Homo sapiens: one gene and its partner. The protein of the gene in region 1 interacts with the protein of each later gene in a biochemical or structural test. Each region holds a gene or a part of one and is shown in the gene's direction. Other genes may lie near its edges.

The links. Proteins that work in one complex are often made in the same cells at the same time.
Region 2: the proteins of HELZ2 (region 1) and PPARA form a complex in vitro, tested with the Homo sapiens proteins (one study listed by BioGRID).

What each region holds. Positions count from the first base shown.
Region 1 is NC_000020.11:63,557,564-63,564,244, reverse strand, and holds the end of HELZ2 (3'-5' exoribonuclease HELZ2), read left to right. Parts: coding exon 1-1,725; intron 1,726-1,862; coding exon 1,863-1,957; coding exon of another isoform or gene 1,958-2,041; coding exon 2,042-2,173; intron 2,174-2,260; coding exon 2,261-2,422; intron 2,423-2,499; coding exon 2,500-2,644; intron 2,645-2,778; coding exon 2,779-2,895; intron 2,896-2,970; coding exon 2,971-3,163; intron 3,164-3,315; coding exon 3,316-3,450; intron 3,451-3,547; coding exon 3,548-3,766; intron 3,767-3,917; coding exon 3,918-4,074; intron 4,075-4,149; coding exon 4,150-4,317; intron 4,318-4,874; coding exon 4,875-4,999; 3' UTR 5,000-6,159; downstream 6,160-6,681. UniProt on the Homo sapiens protein: Can degrade highly structured RNAs through its concerted ATP-dependent RNA helicase and 3' to 5' exoribonuclease activities. Shows a strong preference for pyrimidine over purine residues for its nuclease activity.
Region 2 is NC_000022.11:46,230,525-46,237,551, forward strand, and holds part of PPARA (peroxisome proliferator-activated receptor alpha), read left to right. Parts: intron 1-1,267; coding exon 1,268-1,715; intron 1,716-4,608; coding exon 4,609-4,856; 3' UTR 4,857-7,027. UniProt on the Homo sapiens protein: Ligand-activated transcription factor. Key regulator of lipid metabolism. Activated by the endogenous ligand 1-palmitoyl-2-oleoyl-sn-glycerol-3-phosphocholine (16:0/18:1-GPC). Activated by oleylethanolamide, a naturally occurring lipid that regulates satiety.

The sequences.
Region 1 (6,681 bases):
GGAGTACATGATTCAGTTTAATAGGCTCGTGGCTGAGTTCCTGGTGGGCAGCGAGTGCACGCGGACGGTCACGCCTCTGCGGTGGCAGCCAGCACCCCGCAGCCAGCAGCTCAAGGCCCTGTGTGAGAAGCATGGGGACCGGGTGCCCCTGTCACTGCACCTCGGCCACCACCTGCACGGCGGCGGGGGCAGTCCCCCCGACACGCGGCTGCACCTCCTGGCCTCCCTCTGGAAGCAGGTCCAGTTTGCTGCCCGCACCCAGGACTACGAACAGATGGTGGACTTGGTCACCACGGACGACATGCACCCATTCCTGGCTCCTGCAGGCCGCGACCTCCGCAAGGCCCTGGAGCGCTCGGCGTTCGGCCGCTGCGCCCGGGGCCACCAGCAGCAGGGCGGCCACTACTCGCTGCAGGTGGACTGGTACACGTGGGCCACCTCGCCCATCCGCAGGTACCTGGACGTGGTGTTGCAGCGGCAGATCCTGCTGGCGCTGGGCCATGGGGGCTCTGCCTACTCTGCCAGGGACATCGATGGGCTCTGCCAGGCCTTCAGCCTCCAGCACGCACTTGCCCAGAGCTATCAGCGGCGGGCGCGCAGCCTGCACCTGGCCGTGCAGCTCAAGGCCCAGCCTCTGGACAAGCTGGGCTTCGTGGTGGACGTGGAGGCGGGCTCCCGCTGCTTCCGGCTGCTCTTCCCCAGCAACCGGGAGACGCTGCCTGACCCCTGCCCCGTCCCCTACGGCTCCCTGCAGCTGGCCGAGCACCCCCACGCCCTGGCAGGCCGGCCGGGCCTGCGGCTCCTGTGGCGGCGCCGTGTCTACTCAGCGCAGGGATCCAGCCCGCCCCTGCCACTGCCTGGCACTGTGCCGGACCCACACACCCTGGCCGTGGAGACGGCCCTGTGGAAGCAGCTGCTGGAGCTGGTGGAGCTGCAGCGCTGGCCGGAGGCGGCTGCTCTCATCCAGGAGAAGGGCGAGGCGTCCCAGCGGCGGGAGCTGGTGCAGGTGCAGCGGAGCCACTGTGGCCATTTCCTGGAGGTGGCCCGGGAGCTGGGCAGTGGGGACACCCTGCAGGTGCAGCTCGGCACCAGCCTGCAGCACGGCTTCCTGGTACCGAGCCCTCAGCTCTGGACGGTGGCACCGGGCTTCAGCCTCTGCCTGGAGCACGTGGAGCGGCCCGGAGACTGCTTCTCAGGCCGTGTGTACCGGGCCCCGAGGGACCGGTACCGCGACGTGGATGAGTACGCCTGCGTGTGGGAACCATTCTGCGCCCTGGAGTCGGCCACCGGCGCGGTTGCCGAGAATGACTCCGTCACACTTCAGCACCTGAGTGTCTCCTGGGAGGCGTCACGGACGCCGCAGGGGCAGCTGCAGGGCGCCTTCCGCCTGGAGGCCGCCTTCCTCGAGGAGAACTGTGCCGACATCAACTTCAGCTGCTGCTACCTCTGCATCCGGCTCGAGGGGCTGCCGGCTCCCACGGCCAGCCCACGCCCTGGGCCCAGCAGCCTCGGCCCTGGCCTGAATGTTGACCCCGGCACGTATACCTGGGTGGCCCACGGGCAGACGCAGGACTGGGACCAGGAGCGCCGGGCAGACCGGCAGGAGGCTCCCAGACGGGTGCACCTCTTCGTCCACCACATGGGCATGGAGAAGGTTCCGGAAGAGGTGCTGAGGCCGGGCACCCTGTTCACCGTTGAGCTGCTGCCCAAGCAGCTTCCTGATCTGTGAGTGGCTTCCACCAGCAGAGGCTGGGCTGGGGGACCGCCCCGGGCCCCTCACTTGCAGGAGGGGGGAGCTCGTGGGGCAGCAGCCCCTTTCCTGGGAGTCCTGTTGGTTTTCCAGTGTCTGCCTTCACCCCCAGCCGCAAGGAGGAAGCCGTGCGTGGACTAGAGGAGGCGTCCCCGCTGGTCACCAGCATCGCACTGGGCCGGCCTGTCCCGCAGCCCCTCTGCAGAGGTAGGTCTGCCCCACCCCTCCAGCTTCCCCTCTGGCCCCCAGCCCCACCCTGCATGAGTGCTCAGGGAGGCTGCCCCCTCTCAGTGATCCCCAGCAGGTTCCTGGAGCGGCAGACCTACAACATCCCCGGAGGCCGCCACAAGCTGAACCCCAGCCAGAACGTGGCGGTCAGGGAGGCTCTGGAGAAGCCTTTCACGGTCATTCAGGGCCCACCAGGTAGGGCCCATGCCGGGGGAGCCGCAGGCTGCCTTGGGCCACAGGGACCCACAGGGTGGGCTACAATCTCCTATTCTCTGGCTGCAGGTACAGGGAAGACGATCGTGGGCCTCCACATCGTATTCTGGTTTCATAAATCAAACCAGGAGCAGGTGCAGCCCGGAGGCCCCCCCCGTGGGGAGAAGCGGCTGGGGGGTCCCTGCATCTTGTACTGCGGCCCCTCCAACAAGTCGGTGGATGTCCTGGCAGGTGCGCCGGGGTCGGCGGTGGGGGCCTTTGGGGAGCTGGCACGCGGGGCAGGACTCACGTCCCCCAACTACCCTCAGGACTGCTCCTGAGAAGGATGGAGCTGAAGCCCCTCCGTGTGTACAGTGAGCAGGCTGAGGCCAGCGAGTTCCCAGTGCCGCGTGTGGGCAGCAGGAAGCTGCTCAGGAAGAGCCCCCGGGAGGGGAGGCCGAACCAGAGCCTCAGGTGTGCCTGCTGTCTTTGGGGCTTGGGCGGAGTGGGGCCGAGCTGTCCAGACAGTCCTGTGTAGGTGGGTCTCACTGAGCTCTGCCCCCGTGATGGCCCTGCGTGGACAGGGCTCACTGTGTCCTGTCCCCCAGGAGCATCACCCTGCACCACCGGATCCGGCAGGCCCCCAACCCTTACTCGTCGGAAATCAAGGCCTTTGACACCCGGCTGCAGAGAGGGGAGCTCTTCTCCAGGGAGGACCTGGTCTGGTAAGTGGCAGGGGCCAGGGGGTGGAGCTGCCTGCAGCATGGGGGCCCTGGGGTGACAAGCAGTGTCCCCGGCAGGTACAAGAAGGTCTTGTGGGAGGCTCGGAAGTTCGAGCTGGACCGGCATGAGGTCATCCTCTGCACCTGCTCCTGTGCAGCCTCTGCCAGCCTCAAAATCCTGGACGTGAGGCAGATCCTTGTTGACGAGGCAGGCATGGCCACGGAACCTGAAACCCTCATCCCCCTGGTGCAGTTCCCACAGGCCGAGAAGGTTGGTCGGCGGGGGGTGTGGGCAGCATGAGCAGGCGTCCCTGGCACAGTCTCCCACCTGGGGTGCCCTGTGTGTGCAGACGCGGGTGTCGTGTGGGGCTGGGGTCCCTCTGGGTCTAGGGGTGTCAGGGCCAGGCCTGCCTATTCCTCCAGGTGGTTCTTCTCGGAGACCACAAGCAGCTGCGGCCTGTGGTCAAGAATGAGCGGCTGCAAAACCTGGGTCTGGACCGGTCTCTGTTCGAGCGGTACCACGAGGACGCACATATGCTGGACACTCAGTACCGCATGGTGAGCCCGCCCCACTCAGCCCCCAGCCCACCTGCAGCCCCTGGGGGGCCACAACCCCGCGTGGCAGCCTCTGACCAGCGCACATCCTTGCCTGCAGCATGAGGGCATCTGTGCCTTCCCCTCTGTGGCGTTCTACAAGAGCAAGCTGAAGACGTGGCAGGGCCTGAGGAGGCCGCCCAGTGTCCTGGGCCACGCTGGCAAGGAGAGCTGCCCTGTCATCTTTGGCCACGTGCAGGGCCACGAGCGGAGCCTGCTGGTGTCCACGGACGAAGGGAATGAGAACTCCAAGGCCAACCTGGAGGAGGTGGCTGAGGTGGTGAGTGTCTGGTGCCTGTGAGTCAGGGAGGGCTTTCTGGAGGAGGTGGCTGAGGTGGTGAGTGTCTGGTGCTTGTGAGTCAGGGAGGGCTTCCTGGAGGAGGGCAGGAGAGACACCAGGGTCCGCTCCACCTGCCCCCTCGGCTCCTCAGGTCCGTATCACCAAGCAGCTGACCCTGGGGAGGACCGTAGAGCCCCAGGACATCGCCGTCCTCACGCCCTACAACGCGCAGGCCTCTGAGATCAGCAAGGCCCTTCGGCGAGAGGGCATCGCCGGGGTGGCCGTGTCCTCCATCACCAAGAGCCAGGGTGAGGCTGGGGGCTCGTGGGTGGGGCCGGGAGGGTGGGCGCAGCGGCAGCAGGGCCTCACCTCCCATCCCGCAGGGAGCGAGTGGCGCTATGTGCTGGTGAGCACCGTCCGCACCTGTGCCAAGAGCGACCTGGACCAGCGGCCCACCAAGAGCTGGCTCAAGAAGTTTCTGGGCTTCGTTGTGGACCCCAACCAAGTGAATGTGGCTGTCACGCGGGCCCAGGAGGGGCTCTGCCTGATCGGTGAGGGCGGGGCTGGGCTCTTCCAGGGTGGGAACACAGGTGAGGCCAGGGCTGGGCTAGGGAGCTGCCGACTCCTGCCTGACCCTGACTCCGACCTGACCCTGACTCCTCCCACCTGACCCTGACTCCTCCCACCTGACTCTGACTGACTCCCATCTGACCCTGACTCCTCCCACCTGACCCTGACTCCTCCCACCTGACCCTGACTGACTCCCACCTGACCCTGACTCCTCCCACCTGACCCTGACTCCGACCTGACCCTGACTCCTCCCACCTGACCCTGACTCCTCCCACCTGACTCTGACTGACTCCCATCTGACCCTGACTCCTCCCACCTGACCCTGACTCCTCCCACCTGACCCTGACTCCTCCCACCTGACCCTGACTCCTCCCACCTGACTCTGACTGACTCCCATCTGACCCTGACTCCTCCCACCTGACCCTGACTCCTCCCACCTGACCCTGACTGACTCCCACCTGACCCTGACTCCTCCCACCTGACCCTGACTCCTCCCACCTGACCCTGACTGACTCCCATCTGACTCCCACCCTCACAGGAGACCACCTCCTTCTGCGCTGCTGCCCCCTCTGGCGTAGCCTCCTGGACTTCTGCGAGGCTCAGCAGACCCTCGTGCCTGCCGGCCAGGTGCGCGTCTGCAGGAGGCCAACTATGCCTTCCTGAAGAGCCCTCTCCACCTGCAAGGTGCCAGGACTGGGAGGGAAAGTCCAGGGCCCCCCCACCCTCCCCACCACCCTCCGCCATCAGCCTGCCTGGGCCAGCCTGCCTCCTGGCCTCAGGATCTCCCTGGGGCAGGAAGTGGGTGGACTTGGAGGAGGAACGGCAAGGGCCGGTCCCCACACTCTTGCTCCTCCTGGGCATCTGGGGACAGGAACACCTCTCAGGGTGGCCAAGAGGGGCTTCCTTGGGACCAGTGCAAGGAAGTTCTGCTGTCCCTGGGAAGTCTCAGAACCAGGAAGGAAACCCTGTGGAGGCTGCCCTTTGACCTTTGGACGCCACCTGTAATCACTCTGGATGGTGTCTGTGGAGTTCAGGTTTATTTTCTATTTAAATGAACTAAAAGCCAGCATCCTGCCGGGCGTGGTGGCTCACGCCCATAATCCAGCACTTTGGGAAGCCGAGGCGGGCAGATCACCTGAGGTCAGGAGTTCGAGACCATCCTGGCCAACATGGTGAAACCCCGTCTCCACTAAAAATACAAAATTAGCTGGGCGTGGTGGCGGGCGCCTGTAATCCCAGCTACTTGGGAGGCTGAGGCAGGAGAATCGCTTGACTCCAGGAGGCGCAGGCTGCAGTGAGCTCTGATGGTACCACTGCACTCCAGCCTGGGTGACAGAGCGAGACCCTGTCTTAAAAAAAAAAACAAAACAAAACCAGCATCTGTTACTGGAACAGAGACCTCAGCCCAAGCTCAGGACAAGGAGGCCTCCCTGGGAGAGGGGGCCTTTCTCCCACCATCACCGCCTGTGTCCTTCAGGGGCTGCTGGAGGGCAGCCCAAAGCCAGGGGCCCACCCCGCCCCACCCCACCCCACCCCACCCTCTGAAATGTGAAAAGCCTGCACTCTTCCTGTGGGCTGCGCAGTGGGCTCGGGGGTTGGGGGGTGCCGGGGCGATGCTTCCACCCTGGACTGAGTGTTCGGGGCAGCCTGCTCGGCTGTATGTTTCTCGCACGCTCACCCGCTTCAGTGCGGCTCTGTCCCTGCTGCCGCCTCCAGTCCTGAGGGAGGGGCTTGCCCCACCTTCTACATTCCAATTTTTATATCTTTGAATTATGTGATTAGATATTAATTTAATGATAAAACCACTCTGAAAGCTCTTCTCACTTCTGGGTGTTTGAGGTCTGGCTGGGGGGCAAAAGTGGATGGTCACTGTGCTTGGTACGCAGTTGTGGAGGCTGTCGAGGGCCTACTGCAGAGCGCTGGGCGCAGGGGCGTGGGGAGGGCGGTTTTGGGACGCGGCCGTGGAGGCCGTCGAGGGCCCACTGCAGAGCGCTGGGCGCAGGGGCGTGGGGAGGGCGGTTTTGGGACGCGGCCGTGGAGGCCGTCGAGGGCCCACTGCAGAGCGCTGGGCGCAGGAGCGTGGGGAGGGCAGCGACCCCCCCTGCAGGGCCGGTGTCTCCGGCTGCCTGTGTGGGGAGGGGAGGGCCGTGCCTGGTGTGGTGGGGACAAGCCACAGCTCCAGAGCTGCTCCGGTGTCACCAGGCTGGCCAAGTCCAAAGTCCCTGAGGCCACCAGCCTTGACTGTCCTGCTGGTCCCACTTTTAAAGCTGCTCCCCAGGACCCCCTGGCCGCTGTGGACTGGGGTCCCTCCGCACCTGGCCCATTTGTGGCTGCGTCCACAGGGG
Region 2 (7,027 bases), on another chromosome or scaffold:
TCATTTTCCCCGGCTCTCCCACACATGTAATCCCTTCTGAGCATGTTGGCTTCAAATAATATGGCCAGCCACCTCTTCCACCACGAGATCTTCAGGAAATGGCAGGCCACTGGGTTTACATGCAGATGGCATGGGAGCACACAAGGCACGGCTGTGGGGAGTTGGCACTTGCTCCAGAATATGGAGCACCGAGTGAAGGTTTCAGTTTCCTGCACTGAGAGAAACAAGGGCATTCCGAGGCTTTTCCACTTTATCCCTAAAGAGTTTCACAACGCTTGTTTGCCGATTTCTACATAGATGCCACCTTTCTGAGTTGTATGTATTTACATGCCAAATGTATTCATTGAGCAGCGTTAAATAATGGTGTTCACCCCTAAAGTGCATATACTGGTAAAATTAAGAATGATCGTAATTAAGCCTCTTGCAATAGTCATTAGTTCAGAGAATATTTAAGAATATTAAAGGTGCTTTGCTAATGTCCTCGTTAGTTTTGTTTTGACAAAATCAGTACTTCAGTTTCTTGTTTCTTTTTTTTTTGAGACGGAGTCTTACTCTCGCTCTGTCGCCCAGACTGGAGACTGGAGTGCAGTGGCACGATCTTGGCTCACTGCAACGTCCACCTCCCAGGTTCAAGCGATTCTCCTGCCTCAGCCTCCCGAGTAGCTGGGGTTACAGGCACACACTATGCCTGGCTAATTTTTTTTTTTTTTTTGAGACGGAGTCTCGCTCTGTCACCCAGGCTGGAGTGCAGTGGCGCAATGTCGGCTCACTGCAAGCTCTGCCTCCTGGGTTCACGCCATTCTCCTGCCTCAGCCTCCCGAGTAGCTGGGACTACAGGCGCCCGCCACCACACCCAGCTAATTTTTTTGTATTTTTAGTAGAGACGGGGTTTCACCATGCTGGCCAGGCTGGTCTCGAACTCTTGACCTCAGGTAAACCACCCACCTCAGCCTCCCAAAGTTCTGGGATTACAGGCGTGAGCCACCATGCCCAGCCCAGTACTTCAGTTTCTTAGCGATGAAATCCACCCAATGTCAGGCGATGACTATTATTATTTTACTGATTTATACTGTTTGTTCTCTATTAATGTCTTATTTTCCCCAACCGATTTTGAAGTTGAGTAAGGACTATGTTCCGCGGGTATCTTGAGTCCTCTGAGGCACTGAGCTTGGTGATTTGGACGCAGGAGCTGCTCATTAGTGAGCTGATAGCTGGGAGCATAGCGCATCCCACATCACCTGACTTACCTTGGTGTCCTCCTTTGTAGCCTTTTGTCATACATGATATGGAGACACTGTGTATGGCTGAGAAGACGCTGGTGGCCAAGCTGGTGGCCAATGGCATCCAGAACAAGGAGGCGGAGGTCCGCATCTTTCACTGCTGCCAGTGCACGTCAGTGGAGACCGTCACGGAGCTCACGGAATTCGCCAAGGCCATCCCAGGCTTCGCAAACTTGGACCTGAACGATCAAGTGACATTGCTAAAATACGGAGTTTATGAGGCCATATTCGCCATGCTGTCTTCTGTGATGAACAAAGACGGGATGCTGGTAGCGTATGGAAATGGGTTTATAACTCGTGAATTCCTAAAAAGCCTAAGGAAACCGTTCTGTGATATCATGGAACCCAAGTTTGATTTTGCCATGAAGTTCAATGCACTGGAACTGGATGACAGTGATATCTCCCTTTTTGTGGCTGCTATCATTTGCTGTGGAGGTGAGTGGTTGATTTAATCTGCTGGTATCATGTCACTGACAGGCTCCTGTCTTGAAAAATTTGACAATGGGAAATCCAGTACCAGCCTGAGCTGTTCCAGTGGAGGGGACACTCACATGGTGGGAAGACGTCTGACCCCCAGTCACTGCTGAGAATTCAGTGGGAATTATAACAATATTGTATAATATTATAGTATATATTGTTATTATCTATAAATACATATTTAATATTATGTAAATGTATGACATTTTAATCATAATATTAGCCAGGTGTGGGGGTGCACACCTTTAGTCCCAGCTACTTACTCAGTAGACTGAGGCAAAAGGATCTCTTGAGCCCAGGAGTTCAGGTTGCAATGAGTTATGAATGCACCACTGCACTCTAGCCTGGGCAACAGAACAAGACCTATTTCTTTAAAAAAAAATTATATATTTTGCACAAATATATATATAGAGAAAAAGAGGTCGGACATGGGCCTGTAATCCCAGCCCTTTGGGAGGCTGAGGTGGGTGGATCACTTGAGCCCAGGAGGTTGAGACCAGCCTGGGCAACATGGCAAGACCCCGTCTCTACAAAAAAAAAAATAGAAAAAATTAGTCAAGTATGGTGGCATGTACCTGTAGTCCCAGCTACTTGAGAGGCTGAGGTGGGAGGATCACTTAAGCCCAGGAGACAAAGGTTGCAGTGAGCCAAGGTCACGCCACCACACTCCAGCCTGGGCGACGAAGAATGACCCTGTCTCAAAAAAAAAAAAAAAAAAAATTATACACACACACACACACACACATTTCGTTTATATTATATCTAATATTATAAACAGATATAATTTATATATTATGATATTCCTGTATATATTATATAATGATGTTGTATTCATATTATAGACAATATTGTATGAAGTGCTATACAGATGTCAGTATAGTTGCTGTCACAGTTGGTTATGTTGATGAAAAGTATATTTCCTAATGCAAAATATAATATCAGTCAGCAGCCAAGTGGCAGTGACTGCAAGGTTTGCTTTGCCCGAGGAAGCAGATCCCAGGGAAGGCCGATCTGGTCCTCTCTGTGGAAGCTGGCTCTGCAGCCTCCACATTTTTGGCTCGGTGTCACGTTCCTTTAAATAGCCCCATCTCAGGTCTAGGAAGGTCATCCACCTACTGCAAACTCGGCTGACCTTACCCAGGGTTGGTGGAGACAGATGGGGTCTCCCACACTGCCTGCAGCCATACTGCGCCTGGGGGATTGACTCACTGTCAGCATGGAGCTGACTCAGCCCTACCAGCCGTGCCCGTTACTGTGTGGCTGGGCACAAGTCAGATGAAGGAAGTCCTTGCGCTCTGGCATAAAGTGTACAAAGACAAAGCAGTTATGCATAATTTGTCCTTTAGTATGGTCAGGATGTAGCATTGTGGGTAAAATGCAGTTGCAGAACTATTTATATGTAGCATGATCACAGTTTTATAAAGGAAATTATAATCCTATATCAATCCTATGTATATAGAAAAATGTCCAGTGAGATATATGTTAAACCTATTATGGTGGGATTAAAATTATGAGGGGGGATTTCTATTTTTCAAAAGATTCCTCCTTTTTTTTTTTTTTGAGACAGAGTCTCCGTCTGTCACCCTGGCTGGAGTGCAGTGGCACGATCTCAGGTCACTGCAACTTCCGCCTCCTGGGTTCAAGTGATTCGCCTGCCTCAGCCTCCTGAGTAGCTGAGATTACAGGAACATGCCAGCACACCTGGCTAATTTTTGTATTTTTAGTAAAGATGGGGTTTCACCATATTGGCCAGGCTGGTCTCAAACTCCTGACCCCGGGTGACCCACCCACCTCGGCCTCCCAAAGTGCTGGGATTACAGGCATGAGCCACTGCACCCGGCAATAATTCCTCTCTTTAGAGACTTAATAGTTATAGCCCCAGCCACTCTGGAGGCCGAGGCAGGAGGATTGCTTGAGCCTAGGAGTTCCAGTCCAGCCTAAGCAACAGAGCAAGACCCCATCACTAAAACAATACAAAAACAAGAATTTTAGAAATAAAAACTTAATAATTACATTTACAACCAAAAACAATGAAGATGTTTAAATCCTCATCACTAGCAACCCTGTTAAGAATCATAGTAATGACTGGGTCTGTAAGGGAGCACCGCCTGCTGAACATGGCTCAGGGCAGTATTTTCTGGACCAAGAATCAGGTCTCATGCTTTGAGACTGTCCCAGGATGTCTAGTGCCAGCTACCCCAGGCAGGTCATCTGGTGTGAATGTTGACTCTTCCTGCACCAAGTCTCAGACCTGCCCCACCCTCCTCCCCACTCTGGGTCTCCTGATCTTGGCTCACTGCAATCTCCGTCTCCCAGGTTCAAGCGATTCTCCCACCTCAGCCTCCCGAGTATCTGGGATTACAGGCGTGAGCCACCGTGCCTGGCCTACAAAACCTAGTTCTAACACAATCACTCCTTAAATATGGTGGAACACTTGAAGCTTGATATCTAGTTTGGATTCAAAAGCTTCATTTCCCATATTATGCAAAACTGGTGGTTGTGATCTCCAGAATGTACTGTTCCTCCTACTAGCTCTAATTTTTCTCCCTGACAGGTGGTCATCAGGTAAATCACAAGTGAAAAGGCCGCACCATAAGGTGTACTTAGGGCACTATTGCCGCCTAGTAGTATGAATATTTAGGAAAGAGTACTGGTCCTGTCTGTCCCTACTTCACCTATTGACTTTGGAAAAACCTATGTCTATCTTCCAGTCAAGTTGACAATATCTAAAGGCAGCTCAGTTTTTTTCTAAGAAAGGCCACATAAAATAGGCATGTTTGGTTCCTGAAACTGATAAGCAGTTCTTGGGTGATTATCACACTCAAACCTCTCTCTCTTCTTTCGAGACTAGATCGTCCTGGCCTTCTAAACGTAGGACACATTGAAAAAATGCAGGAGGGTATTGTACATGTGCTCAGACTCCACCTGCAGAGCAACCACCCGGACGATATCTTTCTCTTCCCAAAACTTCTTCAAAAAATGGCAGACCTCCGGCAGCTGGTGACGGAGCATGCGCAGCTGGTGCAGATCATCAAGAAGACGGAGTCGGATGCTGCGCTGCACCCGCTACTGCAGGAGATCTACAGGGACATGTACTGAGTTCCTTCAGATCAGCCACACCTTTTCCAGGAGTTCTGAAGCTGACAGCACTACAAAGGAGACGGGGGAGCAGCACGATTTTGCACAAATATCCACCACTTTAACCTTAGAGCTTGGACAGTCTGAGCTGTAGGTAACCGGCATATTATTCCATATCTTTGTTTTAACCAGTACTTCTAAGAGCATAGAACTCAAATGCTGGGGGTAGGTGGCTAATCTCAGGACTGGGAAGATTACGGCGAATTATGCTCAATGGTCTGATTTTAACTCACCCGATGTTAATCAATGCACATTGCTTTAGATCACATTCGTGATTTACCATTTAATTAACTGGTAACCTCAAAATTCGTGGCCTGTCTTCCCATTCACCCCGCTTTTGACTATTGTGCTCCTTTATAATTCTGAAAACTAATCAGCACTTTTTAACAATGTTTATAATCCTATAAGTCTAGATGTATCCAAAGGTGAAGTATGTAAAAAGCAGCAAAATATTTATTTCAAAGACTTCACTTCTGTTTCCTGAATCTAAAGAAAGACAACATGCTGCTTTTTAATCATAGGATGGAGAATTTTAAAGAACTGTTTGGGCCAGGCACAGTCGCTCATACTTGTAATCCCAGCACTTTGGGAGGCCGAGGCGGGTGGATCACAAGGTCAGCAGATCGAGACCATCCTGGCCAACATGGTGAAACCCTGTCTCTACTAAAAATACAAAAATTAGCCGGGTGTGGTGGCACATGCCTGTAATCCCAGCTACTCGGGAAGCTGAGGCAGGAGAATTGCTTGAACCAGGGAGTTGGAGGTTGCAGTGAGCTAAGACTGCACCACTGCACTCCAGCCTGGTGACAGAACGAGACTCTGTCTTAAAAACAAACAAACAAAAAAAAAATCTGTTAGATAAGCTATCAAAATGCAGCTGTTGTTTTGTTTTTGGCTCACTGTTTTCGTGGTTGTAACTAATATGTGGAAAGGCCCATTTCCAGGTTTGCGTAGAAGAGCCCAGAAAACAGAGTCTCAAGACCCCCGCTCTGGACTGTCATAAGCTAGCACCCGTGGTAAGCGGGACGAGACAAGCTCCCGAAGCCCGCCAGCTTCCTGCTCCACTCAGCTCCGTCCAGTCAACCTGAACCCACCCAGTCCAGCTGTCTGTGGGAATGGTGGTGTTCTTAGGGACAGACTGACACCTTACTTGTCAGTGTTCCTCCGGGCCCCATTTGGCAGCTCCCGTATCTTTTGTTATGTTGCTTTTAAAGATATGATGTTTTATTGTTTTAACTCTTGGTGACAGTAGATGCTCTCTGGAGCGCAGACGAGGCACATGTGTCTTCATAGCCTGGGCTGGGTGGGAGCCAGTCACCCTGCGGATCGAGAGAGGGGGTAGAGTCTTCTTCAAATGGCAGTTTTACTTCAAATGGCAGATTTCACAAGAGTTGGTTATTTTTTACAATGGTTTAGGTTGTTAAGTCTCCTTTGTATGTAAGGTAGTTTTTTCAACATCTAAAATTTTTGTTTTAGCCTTCAAAACCAACTTACCAACCTCAGTCCAGCTGGGAAGGCAGCGTTGATTATGGTAGTTTGTCAAGAATATATGGACCTGGAAACACTTTCTCTCTCTGTCCACCTGGTAGATAAATTGTCCTGTTGAGAATTTTTAGATCTGGACTGGAACTGCCAGGACCACCGCCTCCAGGGAGTCGCTGGGCACCTGGAGGTATCGTCGATGCCTCTCCCCCATCTTTAGAAAATTTGGCTCTTCTGAGGTCATTATTATTTTAAGAATGATTAGGATTGATAAGGGTCCCATGACCAGCATTATGAAAATGCGAGAGTGGGAAGGACACAGTGTGAGACTTCCACTAGAAAAAAGTGAAAGTTAGGGTTAGGACATCCTTTTTTAAAAATTACAAATTTAGTCCGTTTTGGTTTTTGTAATCAGGCTAGGCACAGTGGCTCACACATGGAATCCCAGCACTTTGGGAGGCCGAGGTGGGAGGATCACTTGAGCCCAGGAGTTCGAGACCAGCCTAGGCAACATAGCAAGACCCTGTCTGTACACAAAATTTAAAAATTAGTTCATCGGGGTGGCACACATCAGTAGTCCCAGCTACTCTGCAGGCTGAGGTGGGAGGATTGCTTGAACCCAGGAGGTCGAGGCTGCAGTGAGCTGTGAT